2 separate regions of the Homo sapiens genome follow, and region 1 is linked to region 2. The links come from fine-mapping of genetic effects on gene expression. A gene starts in region 2. The other region holds a variant in brackets. All regions are shown on one strand. Distances are between the middles of the regions. Region 1 overlaps CACNB2 (calcium voltage-gated channel auxiliary subunit beta 2). Region 2 holds the start of CACNB2 (calcium voltage-gated channel auxiliary subunit beta 2).

Evidence for each region. PIP is the estimated chance that this variant, and not a neighbour inherited with it, causes the effect.
Region 1: its variant is fine-mapped to the expression of CACNB2 in skeletal muscle (GTEx, PIP above 0.99).

What each region holds. Positions count from the first base shown.
Region 1 is chr10:18,297,532-18,305,867 of GRCh38, forward strand. The region is part of intron 2 of CACNB2 (calcium voltage-gated channel auxiliary subunit beta 2); the gene reads left to right. Among named protein-coding and RNA genes, the nearest start is that of CACNB2-AS2, 40 kb to the left of the region's middle. The variant G/A (reference allele first, on the strand shown) is at 4,766.
Region 2 is chr10:18,136,027-18,144,362 of GRCh38, forward strand. CACNB2 (calcium voltage-gated channel auxiliary subunit beta 2) reads left to right here and starts at 4,398. Exons shown (of 14, transcript NM_201596.3): 1 at 4,398-4,830. The coding sequence starts at 4,711. RefSeq lists an enhancer at 1-863.

The DNA.
Region 1 (8,336 bases), 160 kb after region 2:
TGGATGACAGAGTGAGACCATGTCTTTAAAAAAAGAAAAGTTTCTCACCATCCATAGATAATTAAACATTTCCAGGCCGACTGAATTCCTCCACGGAGAAGACAGGAGAGGGATTCAGAACCAACCTGAGCCCAGGGCTGCTCCACTCCCTGCTCTCTACCTTCTTCCCCTTGGGTTTGAGCCCAGATTTTAGGTGAGATGAGCTTTCAGCTGGTGGAACATCTCTCTTCCGTTTTGCTGTGATAACAACTCTAGTTCTTATGTGGAGGGAGGGATTAAAGTGCATTGGAGTGCACTATCCCTCCACAGAAGTGCTTCACCCTGCAGCGCAAATGTGCTTCCTCCTGGGTTGGGCATCTAGCCCAGGTATTTCTGAGTCTGACGATCATGGAGTGAAGGCCGAAGAATGTGGATAAAGAAAGGGAAGGAGAATCAAATAATGCCCCCCAAGTTACTAAGTGTCTTGCTGAACTTTTGCTTTTTCTATGTGGGTGAAGGTAAAAAGAGATAACTCGAGACAGTGCAGGAAAAATATCATTTAAAACCTAACCTTGAGGCTGGGCGTACTGGCTCACGCCTGTAATCCTAGCACTTTGGAAGGCTGAGATTGGTGGATCACCTGAGGTCAGGAGTTCAAGACCAGCCTGGCCAATGTGGCAAAACCCCATCTCTACTAAAAATACCAAAATTAGCTGGGCATGGTGGTGGGCGCCTGTAACTCCAGCCACTCGGGAGGCTGAGGCAGGAGAATCACCTGAATCCGGTGGGGCGGAGGTTGCAGTGAGCCGAGATTACGCCATTTCACTCCAGCCTGGGCGAAAGAGCGAAACTCTGTCTCAAAAAAAAAAAAACCTAACCTTGAGATCACTATATCCAGACTAAACAATGAAGAGAATGTACAGTGTGAAATTTCTAGGAGAAAATGTTGATCTATGTCATAGATCATTTTAAATGCCACAGGTGAGGCCGTAAGGGCCCAGGAATGGGAGAACCAGTTGTGAATCATTCCCTAAAATCAAGAGGTGATACAATGTGCAATGTGTTACCAACTCATAGCCAGTTCCAAGAGATCTGGGTCTATATCCGGTTTGGGGATTTTGTCTCCACTACTCCAGCCTTAGTGCAGGCTGGCTGTGAGTTGCAGCCCTGGTGGACATTAGATGTCTTGACCAGCAGGTCACCGGACCTTTCAGAGAAAACATGCCACCTTCTTGTAGTTCAACTGCACTGTGAGAGGGGCAGATGGATAATCCCTCATTTAAAGGTAAGAGGTAAAGCAGAGGTAATAAGAATGGCGGGTTTCTTCCACTCTGCAAAAACTGCTGTATGGGCTGTGTGGGCACACCTTTGAGCTCTTAGATGGAGACGAGCTCAGGGATAGTGCCTTTGGAGAAAAGGTTGGAGAGATTGCACTGTGAGAGGCTTCAAATCAAGTTACCAAGTAAATAATGAGTGCAGCACACCAACATGGCACATGTATACACATGTAACAAACCTGCACGTTGTGCACATGTACCCTAAAACTTAAAGTATACTAAAAAAAAAAAAATAAAAAATAAAAGAAAAAATAAAAAGAAAAAAATAAAATAAAAAAAGAAAAAAAAAGTTACCAAGTAAATATTAACCCTTTTGCAAGAATTCATTAAAACTAGGAGCACCAGAAGTCGCATATAATGCCTCTTGCCCACAATTCTTAATAGTTCTCTTTCTTTCTCAGAAGTGTTCTGGATTGGACAATACATGGCATGCTCACTCTAATTGTCATAACAGAGTACGGGTGGATGATCATGGTGGGAAGGAGTAGGAAGAAGTAGGGCCTGGGAAAGTGTGAGTTTTCCCAAGGAAAAGCTCCACTGTGGTTACTCAGAAATTCAGTGGAGAAGGGGAGCGGGAGCGTGGCTGCACCTCTGGCCTACTCTGGCTTTAGGCATCAGTTTTGTGACTTTGGATATACTAATTAGTCTCTTTGAAGGTCACTTTCCCAGCCTGGGCAACATGGTGAAACCCCATCTCCACAAAAAATACAAAAATTAGCCAGGCATGGTGGCATATACCTTTACTCCCAGCTTCTCAGGAGGCTGAGGTGGGAGGATCAATTGAGCCTGGGAGGTTGAGGCTGCAGTAAGCAGTGATCGCACCACTGCACTCCAGACTGGGTGACAGAGTCAGACCCTGTCTCAAAAAATAAAAATAAAAAAAAACTTTCTTCACCTGCAAAATGGAGATCATTATAACTCATGTTGCTGATGGTTGTGAGAATGAATCATAAGAATGCAAAGAATATGTATATTGATGATAAGAGATGTCACGAGAAAGAGCAGCTGGGATTATGCTGGACCATGCTACTTAAAATCACCTCTGATGCCAATCTAGATTTCTTAGTCTGGCCTTCAGGAACATCTATAGTCAGTCTCAATCTAAATTTCCGACCCTGTTCTCCACCACTTTCATAGGTAGAGCCTCTACCCAGTGAATGCATGTTGCATTTCTTTTTTTTTTTTTATTTTGAGACGGAGTTTCACTCTTCTTCCCCAGGCTGGAGTGCAATGGCACTATCTCGGCTCACTGCAACCTCCACCTCCCGGGTTCAAGTGATTGTCCTGTCTCAACCTCCCAAGTAGCTGGGATTATAGGCGTGCATCACCATGCCTGGCTAATTTTTGTATTTTTAGTAGAGATGAGGTTTCACTCTATTGGTCAGGCTGGTCTCAAACTCCTGACCTCAGGTGATCTGCCCACCTCGGCCTCCCAAACTGCTGGGATTATAGGCGTGAGCCACCACGCCCAGCGGTGTTGTGTATTAATATCTCTGTATGTCTGTTGCTGTGCCTTGGGTAACAAGTTGACTCCTACACTCCTGAAATTTCATTGCTGCTACTTCTACTAAGCCAAGATAAAAAGTAAGTCTTATCAGCAAAAGTGATGTGAAATAAAGAGATCATTGGAAATACTATCACCTTGTCTAAAATACATTTGTGTTTATGTTACTAAAACTAACAGAACCTATTACAGCAATGACAACGTATTTCAAAACTCTAGGTGTTTGTTATGCCTTTTGGCAATTAACACCTTTAAAAAATGCAATCTGACGGGTGAATCACGAGGTCAGGAGTTCAAGACCAGCCTGGCCAGGATAGTGAAACCCCATCTCTACTAAAAATACAAAAATTAGCCGTGCATGGTGGTGGGCACCTGTAATCCCAGCTACTCGGGAGGCTGAGGTATGAGAATTGCTTGAACCCGGGAGGCAGAGATTGCAGTGAACTGAGATCGTGCCACTGCACTCCAGCCTGGGTAACAGAGCGAGATTCCATCTCAAAAAAATAAAAATAAAAAGCGCAATCCAAATCAACAATGATGCATTGACTTCTGGGAAAAAAAGTAACAGAATATTCAGAGTACTCTGGGGAAAAAAGAAAGATAGGATTTCCTAAGGACTAGTGTCAGTTCCCAAGAAAATGAGTGAGGAAAGAACGCTATTTTAACTTGCATGTTACCCAAAAGTGAAAGTGAGATGGAGACTCTCAAGGTAGAGAGAAAACCACCACTCCTTTTCAAAAAGGGGACTCGTGTTCGGAAGTGCAAACGTAGCAGTGTTCCTGGCACCACAGAAGTTTGGTGATTTTAATCCTGACACCATTTGCTGTTTCTGAACTTTTACATTTATCGTTGTTATTAACTTCCCAAGTCAAACCAGGGGAGTGACGTGAGCTGACTTTGCGCTCTCTGATAGCACGAAGGAAAGCCCCAACAGGTGAATGACATGGTTCTGGCATCTTTTCTGCCTTGATAAACAAGCTCCACAGTAATCCCAGCACTTTAGGAGGCTGAGGTGGGAAGATTGCTTGAGGCCAGGAGTTTGAAACCAGCCTGGGCCACATAGCAAGACCCCGCTCTACAAAAAAACACAAAAATTAGCGGGACATGGTGGCACATGCCTGCAGTCCCAGCTACTCAGGAGGCTGAGGTGGGAGGATCATTTGAGCCCAGGAGTTTGAGGCTGCAGTGAGGTATGATTATGACACTGCACTCCAGCCTGGGTAACAGAGCGAGATCCTGTCGCAAAAACAAACGAAACAAGCTGTTCAGGTAAATCCACTAAGCCTTTCTCTCTTTTTTTTTTTTTTCCTTTTTTGAGATGGAGTCTTGCTCTGTCACCCAGGCTGGAGTGCAGTGGCACAATCTCAGCTCACTGCAACCTCCGCCTTCTGGGTTCCAATGATTCTCCTGCCTCAGCCTCCCGAGTAGCTGGGATTACAGGCATCTGCCACCACGCACAGCTAATTTTTGTATTTTTAGTAGAGACGGGGTTTCACCATGTTGGCCAGGCTGGTCTCGATCTCCTGACCTCGTGATCCTCCCACCTTGGCCCCCCAGGGTGCTGGGATTACAGGCATGAGCCACCGCGCCCAGCCGCCTGTTTCTAATACATAGGAAGGAGATGAATATGTCACACTTCCTGGAACCCAAGAAAATAACCCAAATTATGCATTCTATAAAAGTAAACATAGCCTTAAGAAAGACTAGGAGGAAAAGTCTTACCAAGCAGAATGAAGAAATAGCATAGTAATTGATTTATCAAAATTGCCCACATCAGGCCTCCCAACTTGACGTAAAGAAATCAAAATGAAATCACTCATTTAGCAGTCAAAGTTGTAGAACAGACTTTGAGATATTGTCCCAGTGATGCCCAGAACCTGAATAGCAGCAGTCCAGGGAAGTTTGATGGGGTCAGGGGTGGGTCGGGGGGCGCTTTGTTGCTGTA[G/A]CAGTCTTCCAAGCTGCTTGCAGATCTGCAGCATAGCAGCAGCAGAAGCGATAGCGCCTGTATTTAAATGTGAATGACATTATACAAAATATACTTGCATGCACGTTTATAGCAGCAGAATTCGCAATTGCAAAAATGTGGAACCAACCCAAATGCCCATCAATAAACGAGTGGATAGAGAAACTGTGCGATATGTACGCAATGGAATACTACTCAGACATAAAAAGGAATGAATTAATGGCATTTACAGCAACCTGGATGGGATTGGATACTGTTATCCTAAGGGAAGTAACTCAGGGATGGGAAACCAAACATTATATTCATATGTTCTCAACCGTAAGTGGCAGCTAAGCTATGAGGATGCAAAGGCATAAGAATGGCATAATGGACTTTGAGGACTCAGGGGGAAAGGGTGGGAAGGGGGTGAGGGATAAAAGACTACAAGTTGGGTTCAGTGTATACTGCTCAGGTGATGCGTGCACCAAAATCTCACACATCACCACTAAAGAAACTTACTCATGTAACCGAACACCACCTGTTCCCTAAAACCTATGGAAATAAAAAATAAAAAATAAAACTAAAATGCAAATGACAGGTGTGCAGTAGACTTTTCTAGACTTGCAGGCATATTGCAGTTTTGTGTAATCTGTGCTGAACAGAGATCGCATCTCTCTTCATAAAGCTCTTTTATAGTTTCACACCTGTAATCAGCTGTCCTTTAAACTCTGAAGCTTCACGGGGGTCTCCTTAGACTCGTTAGTCTCATGGTGGCACTCACAGTGGAGGATGTCCTTGTTGGCTACTGGTGTCACCTTTGGAGTTGAAGGAATAGACAGTTTATTCTTGTTTTTGCTTTTCTCTCATGGCTGTGCGGGAGTGCTGGCAAAAAGATAAGGATGTGAGAAATGTTTAAGAAAGGGAGAAGGCCAGGCATGGTGACTCATCCCTGTAATCCCAGCACTTCGGGAGGCCAAGGTGCGAGGATCACTTGAGCTGAGGAGTTCAAGAACAGCCTGGCCAGCATAGTAAGACGTCATCTCTGCAAATAATAATTAAAAGTTAGTCAAGTATGGTGGTGCACGCCTTTGTTCCCAGCCGCTCAGGGGGCTGAGATAGAAGGCTCGCTTGAGCCCAGGTTGGGAAGGCTGCAGTGAGCCATGATCACGCCACTGCAATCCAGCCTGCGTGATAGAGCAAGGCCCCATCTCAAACCAAAAGAAAATTAAAAAAAAGGGAGAAAAAAGAAACACAATCCAGGGCCACGTGTCTCAGATGTCACTTACTTCTCTTCATAAGAGCCAGTACTGAATTCTTAGAAGCTGTGCAACCCGTATGAAGGCAACCCATATGAAGGTTTTCATTTTCTGCTACTTTTTCAGTTATCCTGGAAAAAATACTGAGAGGCAACACCTGTTAAGGCAGGCTGTCCTTGGGGGTGCGTGTCCAGCGCTGCCCTTGACTAGTTGTGGCACTAGTTACTTATCTTCATGAAGTCTGTTTTCCAGTCCGTTCAGTGGGGGAGCGTTAAACCTGTCCTACCCACCTCAGACAATGAATTGCAAAGAAAATGATGTCTGTGTAAGAGTTTTGACATTATGCAACATTATATGAGATTAAAATTTATTCAAGATCTAGAAAAACCGCCAGTGTTTTTATTTTTTATTAGTATTGCTTGTTGAGACAGAGTCTTGCTCTGTCATCCAGGCTGGAGTGCAGTAGCACAGTCACAGCTCGCTGCAGCCTCAAACTTCCAGGCTCCATCGATCCTCCTACCTCACCCTCCTGAGTAGCTAGAACTACAAGCTTGCACCCCCACATCCTTCTAATGTTTTAATCTTTTGTAGAGATAGGGTTGCATTATGTTGCCCAGGCTGGTCTCAAACTCTTGGGTTCAAGCGAGCCTCCTGACTCAGCCTCCCAAAGTGCTAGGATTATAGGTGTGAGCCACTTCACCCGGCCTAATCAGTGTTTTCATACGTAGAATTGCAAGTCATGGTGGCAGTGGACAAGTTTATTTCTCAATACACAATGGGCAAGTATATTATCTCAAATGAGGAAATGAACTATGTTTATACCACCTAAGAGTTGTGGAGCTTAAAAAAAGTATTCAGCACATTTAAGAAAGGTATTAAATACATTTTGTTTCAAATATTGCATTGAAAACATTGTTTGTTTCCCCAAATTTCCAGGTGAAGGATAAGCCTGTGCTCTTTTTCACTCCATTTTTTTTTCCCAATGTAACCTAAACCTGTTAATATCTATATTCAGCAAAGCTGCCCTGGTTGCCTGGCAACCAGGCTTCGTGGGCTAGGGAAACACCAAGGCAAGGAACCAAAGGCAGCGAACACAACCTTGACTTTGCCTGCCGCTGCACAGGCGATCATCCTCTCTGTATTCTGTATAAAGCTCTATTTCCAAAACATAAGTAAATCTTGCAAGAATGTTAGCTCGATGCTATTAGGAGTTTAAAACTTACGGTTTGTGGGATAACATTTCAACATAATTAAATAAGCATGAAGAAATCTCTCTCTCTGCTCTTCCTTAATTAAAACAGGGGCGGTCCCTTTCCTCACAGGTCATGCTGTACATTTCAATCCCACTTTTTATTTCCTCTGCAGAAAGATGTGTGCATTATTCTTGGAATAAGATGTAATGGAAATTGAAATGTCAACTTTGAGAAATAGAAGTTTAGGACTCATTACTGCCAAACATATATTTTTGTGTCTTATACAAGGAAGTAAAAAGAAGAATGAATGAAAATGATTTTTCTTATTCCAATTCTTCCATGTTTCCACCTTTATCTCATTCCCTTTCTTATATTCTCCCCTGTGGGAACTTCATCACTTTAAAAATTAAGAACAAGGAAAGCCTTTGGGTTACAGGAAATAAATGTCGTCTACTTCATGGACAGTAAATGCTATGAGGCTGAGACAGAATTTGGAATTTAAAGCTTACATTATCTATTGTTTTATTATGTCACTTGTTTCATAAGGCAGCTTTTATTGGTTAAGTTCAATATTCAGAGGAAAAGTAAACTGAAGGACCCTGAAGCAGATCCTTTTTGAAATAAGATTGGAGAATAATATAAGGTAAAACATGTAACTGGGGCTGTTGAAGTGGAGATTTGGCTAAGTATGACAAAAATGAGAACAGAATACAGAGAAAATTAACTCAATAATATCTCAGCACAAATCCTCGAAATCTGCAATGAACGTATCTTTTGATTCCTAAGTCATGAAAGAAGACAGTCTTTCATTATTACTTTGCCATGTAATAGCCATTTATATCAATTTCACATTCTACTTTCTTCTATCCTTATTCCATAGCTGGTGTGAGTTAGTTTTCAAGACAAACTGGAAGTCCCAATTTTAAGTAACACCTCCTAATTTGTAAGTGTTGGCTTCAGTAAAAATTAACAACCTCACTCTGTAGGTCAAACAGAACCCATCTGGAAGCCAGGTTATGCTCATGGTTGACATTTGTGACCCCAGGTATAGGGGGAGAAGAAGGGTAACTGAGGAATTCTCACGTGTTAAGAGGCTGCATATAAAAATGATAAGTGTTGGGAGGC
Region 2 (8,336 bases):
AAACGTCTGGCTTCATTAGCCAGTGTCTCTTACCAGCCCCTGTTCCTATTTCAGAGCATTAGTAATTCCCAGAATATGTCTGTCCATTACAACAACTAATGAGCACAAGGAAGCTAACATACAGCTTGAATAAATTAGTCATCTGCATTTGAATGCGTCGATGGCACATCCATTATTGCTGGAGTCTCTTGCATCTGCTTAACTTTTAACATGAAAAGAATTAGGCTTTACTTACCAAATTTTTGCTTTCCTCTGTGGCTTTTAAATATTGCGCAAGTCAAAGAATCTTAAAAACAAGATCAACCGTGATTGAAGGCATCTATACATTTTCCAAGTCTTTTTATTCTGTTTATTCTGATTTTGCTCCCTTTTTCAGGAGTAACATTTTGTTACTCTGTGTTTGAAATCTTTTACAAGCCAGACAAGAGTCTGAATGGGTACATTGTATTGGATTAGTGTTCAATGCATGCTAATTAAACTAGTTTGAGTTATAAAGGAAGAAGTAGTATAATGTTCTCATGGGAGTCAGGCTTAGGTAAATGTTGTCATTGTACGTTAAAACTGGCAAAGTTGTATGCTGTGTTTTAAGACGCAAGAAGTCATTCAACATTCATGCATTCATTTAGACAACAAATGTTTTCACGTTCTAACTAAGTGGCAGACACCATGCTGGGTGGTGCTGGGGATACTAAGATGAAAAAGACGCCATCACTGCCCTCAAGGAACCCTATCTAGTGGTAGGGAGAAACATAAAAAAACAGGGAGTTCATATTATGAATTATATGAAATGAATATATTGTATTACATTTGAACATTTAATTCAAACTTTACTTGCCCTCTGGTTATAAGCGTTATTAAAATTATTTTCAAGGTTTTGATTTTTTTGCGGTCTCTTTAAACATCTGATGAAAGATGAAATTCTACTTCCCAAATGGTCCTAATTGAAAGCGAATGCACAAATAAGCATGCTATAAGAAACTGGACAGACATCATGAGAAAACACTCAGTTTCACCAAACCTGGTGTTTTTTTTTAAATAATGTTTCTTCTTTTGTTTTCTCCTTCCTTCCTTCCTTCCTTCCTTCCTTCCTTCCTTCCTTCCTTCCTCCCTCCCTCCCTCCCTTCTTTCCTTCATTTATTAATTGGCTTTTAAGTGCTAACTAGCAAGACTGTAAGCCCCATGGAGCTGGTAACCTGGTCTTTGTTGGCTGTGCTCATCAGGTGGCACAAAATAGAAGCTTGATTCATACTTTATTGGATGACTATTGAAAGAACTCAGAGGGCAACTTGCCAGATTCTGAATGTGTCCTAGAGAATAAGTGTGGTTCCTGTCCACACAGAGTTTACAGTCTGAAATGGATTTAATGTTTTCCCTAAGATTTAAACACATGCTCAAGAAAACTTCACAGTTTGATTAAATGAGTAGGCCTAAAACAGTGATATTATCAACAGAGCATGGGGCAAAAGTAGACTATAAGTCGAAAACTTTAAACACAATTTCTTTTCCATTTTCACACACACATACATACAGGCATACATATAAAAGCATGGCTGATTGTTGCTGTTCAAAATGTTCCCATTTTAGAAATTATTACAAACCAATATTTAAGTGCTGCTGTTTAACATTCAGCAAAATTTAAATAAAAGTGGCATTTTAATTTTTTTAATTTTATTTTTCCATAAGTTATTGGGGTACAGGTGGTATTCGGTTACATGAGTAAGTTCTTTAGTGGAGATTTGTGAGAACCTGGTACACCCATCAACCTAGCAGTATACCTTGCACCATATTTGTTGTCTTTTATCCCGTGCCCCCTCCCACACTTCCCCCCAAGTCACCAAAGTCCATTGTATCATTCTTATGCCTTTGCATCCTCATAGCTTAGCTCCCACATGTCAGTGAGAACATATGATGTTCGATTTTCCATTCCTGAGTTACTTCACTTAGAATAATAGTCTCTAATCTCATCCAGGTCATTGCAAATGCTGTTAATTTATTTCTTTTCATGGCTGAGTAGTATCCCATCATCATATATATCAGAGTTTCTTTATCACCTCGTTGATTGATGGGCATTTGGGTTGGTTCCACAATTTTGCTACTGTGAATTGTGCTGCTGTAAACATGCATGTGCAAGTATATTTTTTGAATCATGACTTCTTTTCCTCTGGGTAGATACCCAGTAGTGGCATTGCTACATCAAATGGTAGTTCTACTTTTAGTCCTTTAAGGAATCTCCACACTGTTTTCCATAGTGGCTGTACTAGTTTACATTCCCACCAGCAGTGCAGAAGTGTTCCCTGATCACTGCATCCATGCCAACATCTGTTTTTTGATTCTTTGATTATGGTCATTCTTACAGGGGTAAGGTGGTATCACTTTGTGGTTTTGAGTTGCATTTCCCTGATCATTATTGATGTTGAGCATTTTCTCATATGTTTGTTGGCCATTTGTATATCTTCTTTTGAGAATTTTCTATTTGTGTCCGTAGCCCATAAAAGTGGCATTTTTAATACCAAAGTTTAGGAAAATCAATGATGCTTTATGGCTAAATCTTTAACTGTATCAAGACCCATTCTTTAAGCCTGGCGCAAATCAGTGCTATGGTGGAGATGATAGGTTTAAAATGTCTATGCTTATCTTTGAGGAGAAAAGTACTGTATCTCATGTAATTTAATATATCATAGTAAACTATAGAAGGCAGTTGAAGCCTATTATAGTAAATTTTTGCATGTGTATTTCAATATACCAAACTTTCAGTTTGTTGTTACAAAATAACATATAAATAGGTTTCTGGAGCTGGATGGGCACGGTGGCTCACACCTGTAATCCCAGCACTTTGGGAGGCCAAGGTGGGCGGATCATGAGGTCAGGAGTTTGCGACCAGCCTGGCCAACATGGCGAAACCCTGTCTCTACTAAAAAATACAAAAATTAGGCTGGATGCAGTGGCTCAAATCTGTAATCCCAGCACTTTGGGAGGCAGAGGCGGGCAGATCACCTGAGGTCAGGAGTTCGAGACCAGCCTGGGCAACGTGGTGAAACCCCATCTCTACTAAAAATACAAAAAAATTAGCCGGCTGTGGTGGCGTGCACCTGTAATCCCAGCTACTCGGGAGGCTGAGGCAGGAGAATGGATTGAACCCAGGAGGCGAAGGTTGCAGTGAGCCAAGATCGTGCCACTGTATTCCTGCCTGGGTGACAAGAGTGAAATTCTGTCTCAAAAAAAAAAAAAAAAAAATGCCTGGAAAACTCATTACAGAAGTTTCCACTGTAGTAAAATTTGTTGAAATAAGTTGCACTCAATCATGTAAAAATGTGGCTCCTTGGGACTATCTGAACGGAATGTTGTAAGTGAAACACCCTCACCATAGTCACTATCCTGTTATCAAGAATTCTGGATCTTAAGGAAGTGCTTGTTTTGTCAAAAATGTGACACTAAGACTTTTCACCCCTATAGAAAAACCTCAACCCTGGCCTGGCGTGGTGTCCCACCCCTGTGATCCCAGCACTTTGGGAGGCCGAGGCCGGTGGATTACTTGAGGTCAGGAGTTCAAGACCAGCCCGGGCAACATGGTGAAACCCCGTCTGCACTAAAAACACAAAAATTATCTGGGCTTGGTGGCCTGTGGCTGTAATCCCAGCTATTCGTGAGGCTGAGGCTAGAGAATCGCTTGAACCCAGGAGGCGGAGGTTGCAGTGAGCTGAGATCGCGCCATTGCACTCCAGCCTGGGCGACAGAGTGAGACTCCGTCTAAAACAACAACAAGCAACAACAACAACAAACTTCAATTATGTTTGGAAAGAAGTGCTAATTTAATTTGGCAAAGATGAAGACAGCAGTCATAAAGCAAAACATTCGGTCTCAGGTTGGGTGGATTCCCACCTAGTTGACGAGGCCAGCTGCAGATTCAGGTGGGATCACCTGATGATCTTTATCAATGCCATTTCTTTCTCTGGATCCTTATTACTGACATTAGCAAGGGCTTTCAGCTGCCCAGAAGATGTTCTTTGCAGACATTTGCTCTCCCGGGCTGCCAGCAGGCTTTACAAATTTAAAACTTTCAGTGTAGGAACCCAGCCTCCGTCGTCCTTCCCCTCCAAAGTTAAGAGATCTGCTCTAAGGGTTCCTGAGGGGTGGTCTGGGGCCATGGGAACAGGATCAAGGCCCCCTGAGCGCCGGGCCTGGCTTCTGTGGCTTCGCAAACTTTTCAGCCTGTGTGCCACGGCGACGCGCAGCGGCTGAGTCGGAGCCCACGCGGCGCGCGCCTCCCGCGAGGAACTTTTCGGCTTGTAGGCTGCTTGTCACTCTCGCTTTCCGACGCGCCTCCCCCTGGCTCGCGCTCCCGGAGTTCCCTCCCCTCCTGGCGAGGACCTTTCCCGGCGCCCGCGGCTCCGATCCCCGCCGCGCTGCGCCCGCTCTCCCGGCCCCGGCTGCCCCGCTGAGGGCTCCCCTCTCCCAGGCACCGCAGCCGCGCCCCCGCGTCCCGCCTCCCGAGCGGCTCGCTTCGCCCGATGCCCCGGCCCCGTCCCGCGCACTGAGCGCCTGGCAGCAGGGCGCCGAGTCCCGGGGCGCTGCGGGGCGCTGCGCCGAGAACGGCCGGGCCTGAGCCCTGGGCGGCCCCCAGAGCCGATCAGAGCGCGGGGAGGCGGGGGCGAGGAGGAGGGGACCCGCCGCCGGGGGCTGGCTGCTTCGCTCCGAGCCGACTTTTCGCCAATGGTCCAAAGGGACATGTCCAAGTCGCCTCCCACAGCGGCGGCGGCGGTGGCGCAGGAGATCCAGATGGAACTGCTAGAGAACGTGGCTCCCGCGGGGGCGCTCGGAGCCGCCGCACAGGTAGCGAGAGCGCGGCGCCTTCTCCTTCCTTTGTGAGCCGCCGGGCAGGGCACCGACCTCGGGTTCTCCCGGCGCCTCCACTGCAGGGATCTCTAGCCTCGCACCTCCTCCCCTCGTCGCCTGCCCACCCTCTGCTCCTCTCCTGGCGCCGGGGACCCTGCCCCTTTGCGCCTTTTCCTGGCTCTGCCTCGGCTTCCATTTTTCTCTGCTTCCGAAAAGCCAGTGGGGAAGGGCGGGGGAGACCTGCCAGTCCTCCCAGACTTCTCCCGGGTTGCTCCAGCTGGCCCTCCTCGCCCCTTCCCGGGAGAGGCACATGGAGAGACATGAATCAGGGGAGTGGACTGGACCTGCTGAAGATCGTGAGTCCGGGTGGGCGGGAGGGGGCCCGCTTCCCGCAGCGCTTTCTACGATGCCGACTCTCCTGGCCACGCTCCGAGCCGGGGTGGGCGTGGGTGTGAGGATGATGGGGTGCAGGTGGGCAGGAGGGGAGCGAATATGGGGGTGCCCTGCCGGATCCCCCCAGAGCTGCCCGGACCACGCTGCGCACCTGGGGCTGACAGCTCTCCAGTCCCCTCGGGCACTTGCCAAGGTTTGCCTGTCCCACCTCATGCCTTTCCCTTAAGAAGCGAGTGAGCTGGGGACAAGAAAGTTTTTATTTTTCCGTCTCCCCTGAAATGTTAGCCATTTCAGGGATCTCCAGGATCCCCTTTCTCTCCGTTGAGTGTTTGCGGTTTCTGGAAAAAGTCAGCTTCGCTGCAGGTTGTTGTGAAATTGGAGATGTCAGTTGTAGGCGCTGGGCAATGACAAGGTGGTTTTTACGTTTTTACGTAAGGCTTCAGCAGGTACAGTTTGGGTTACAGACACCTCCAGGTCTCAGCGATGAGGAGTCGCTCAACTTTTCTCCCGGCAGGGAAATGACTTCAGACTCCTAGCTGCGGGCTGGCTGTTGGCTGGCCAGTGATGTGAAGAGGTCTTGGTTACATTTCAGGCAGCATTCTGGAGAAATGTCTGTTTGCTTAACTGTGTTGGCTTGTTGATTTCAAGCCTACATTTGCCAGATTTTAATTTGCGGTAAGATATATATGTGTGTGTATATATACTTATATATTAATACGTAGACACACATACACACACTAGAGAGCATGTTAGAGTATCATTTGCTGTAGTAGTGGGGGCAGGAGTGTGACAAGCTAATAAAGGTGGCAAATGTTTTCTTGCTGTTGTTTTGATAGGTGGAACATGAGTGCTCTAGATATTTTGATATTGTAATCATGGCAGTTCCAAGTGGCATAGTAGTCTAGCTTTATTGAACTTTCTTTTACCATTGGGAAATTAATGTGCTAACTTAAAACACATAATTCACTTTGACTTGAGAAGGGGAAGAATGTGGACACCAAGGACTTGTGTAATCAGAAATCTATTTCTTTTGTAGTGGTAAAACAGCTAGATTTTGGTCCACCCTGGGCTGTTTGCTTCACAAGCCGAGTAGGGACATGTAATGAACCAGCTACATTCCCATCTGGCCTCTGCCAGAGGATCTGAATTTTAACCAATAGAGTTTGCATTTGTTCTAGACTCCTGATTTTTATCTAGATGCTTGCCAGGTTAGACAGAATGAAAAATGTACCCGGAGACCTCGGTTATTCTAGGATGAAGGTCTTGAATACTATCAGTATTCGAGTCCTCCATCAAAGGAAAGGACATTTAGACCCTCATTTGCCTTTGATCTTCCTTGAGGGATATTTTAGAAAAGTTTTTATTCTTATGATAAAAATAGAGTTCCTAAATTCCTGGACATCAAAGTCAGGGCTCACATAACTGCATTCAGATAAGAGATACTAATTTACTTTGTGATTTATGTACAATGATTAAATGTAAGTCAAGTTATTGTACAGCAGCAATGTGGAAATGATTCTGATGTGAAAAGACACAATTTCTGCCTTCAAAGAATTTATATTCCAGTAGCAGCAATTAGGATATATGTATAGGGGCTGGAAGAGAAGTTCTGACTAGTAAATGGCTTCAAAGGAATAAGGATAATAAACACGCTATTTGGAGGAATCTGTAAGGACTTCATTGATGAGGTGGCATTTGCAAAGAGAATTGAAGGATGGGTCAGATTACACCAGATATTTTTGAGAGAGTTGGTAAGCAGTCGTACATGAAACAGAGTCCCAGAAGTAAGAAGTCTTACAGGATAATTTATCGTTTCTAGTTCAAAAAGAGCATGGTAAGGTCAAGATTGGACACAGGCGTAAAACTGACAAAGCAATTTGAGACTACATCTTGGGGACTTGGAATCTTTAGTGTATTGAGCGACAGGGAACTGTGGAAGGAGTTCAAAAGAGGACCCACATAGCAGCTCATTTGGGAATATTCACTTGGAAATGTTCTGTAAGATAGTTTCAAGTCTTAGGAGTCCAGAGGTGAAGCTGCCAGGCAGCAGACAGATGTAACAGTTTGGGCCGAGGTAATAAGGCCTAAGCGAAAAAGAGATGAAAAGATAATGGATATGACAGTTCTATGTATCAAACATTTCAAAGTTCAATTCACAGGAATTAGCAAGTGATTGCATAGATAAAGGAGAGAGAAGAGAAAGGGCAGAATGGATTTTAAAAGCAAGTTTAAGAGATATAAATATTCAACTGCATCAACATTCATCTCCTTGCTTTCTCTGCCTTCCAAAAATGAAAGCAATTTGACTTGAATTGCGTTCATCTCACACCCATTATTTGAGGGAAACATTACCTTGTTTATTTTATATCTGATAAATCATGGCATCATAGGATTGTGTGAGGCTTGGGAAAGCCATCTCTTCCATCTCTCTGTTTGGGCAGAACAGACCAGCAGTAAAAACTGCCTGAGAAAGGAGGCTGGCTCTAGAGCATCCTCCTTGTATGTGGCACCGAGTAATTCTACTCAGAATTATTGGGCAGTTCTACCTAGAAATGGAGTTTCTATTTACAAATGGAACCTCTAAAGCAATGATTGGTTTTAGGAATCATTCTACCTCACCTCTGGATTATAGTATTATATTTGTATGAAGAAAGCAGAAGATGTAGATTTGCAAACTCTGCCATTTTCCTTTTCTGTATCAATCATTCTGTCTAGAGAGAGGGAGCATCCTGATACATTCCGGTCCCTTTGCCCCAGTACATTGCCATAAACAAAATGATACATTTCTCAAAGCCCTGGTTTTTGTTTTGTTTTGTTTTTGTTTTTGTTCTGTTTTGTGTTTTGAAACGGAGTCTCACCCTGTCACCCAGGCTGGAGTGCAGTGGCATTATCTCAGCTCACTGCAACCTCCACCTCCTGGTTTCAAGCAATTTTCCTGCCTCAGCCTCCTCAGTAGCTAGGACTACAGGCGCCCGCCACCATGCTCAGCTAATTTTTTTGTATTTTTAGTAGAGACGAGGTTTCACCATGTTGGCTAGGCTTGTATCAAACTCCTGACCTCAGGTGATCTGCCCGCCTTGGCCTCCCAAAGTGCTGGGATTACAGGCGTG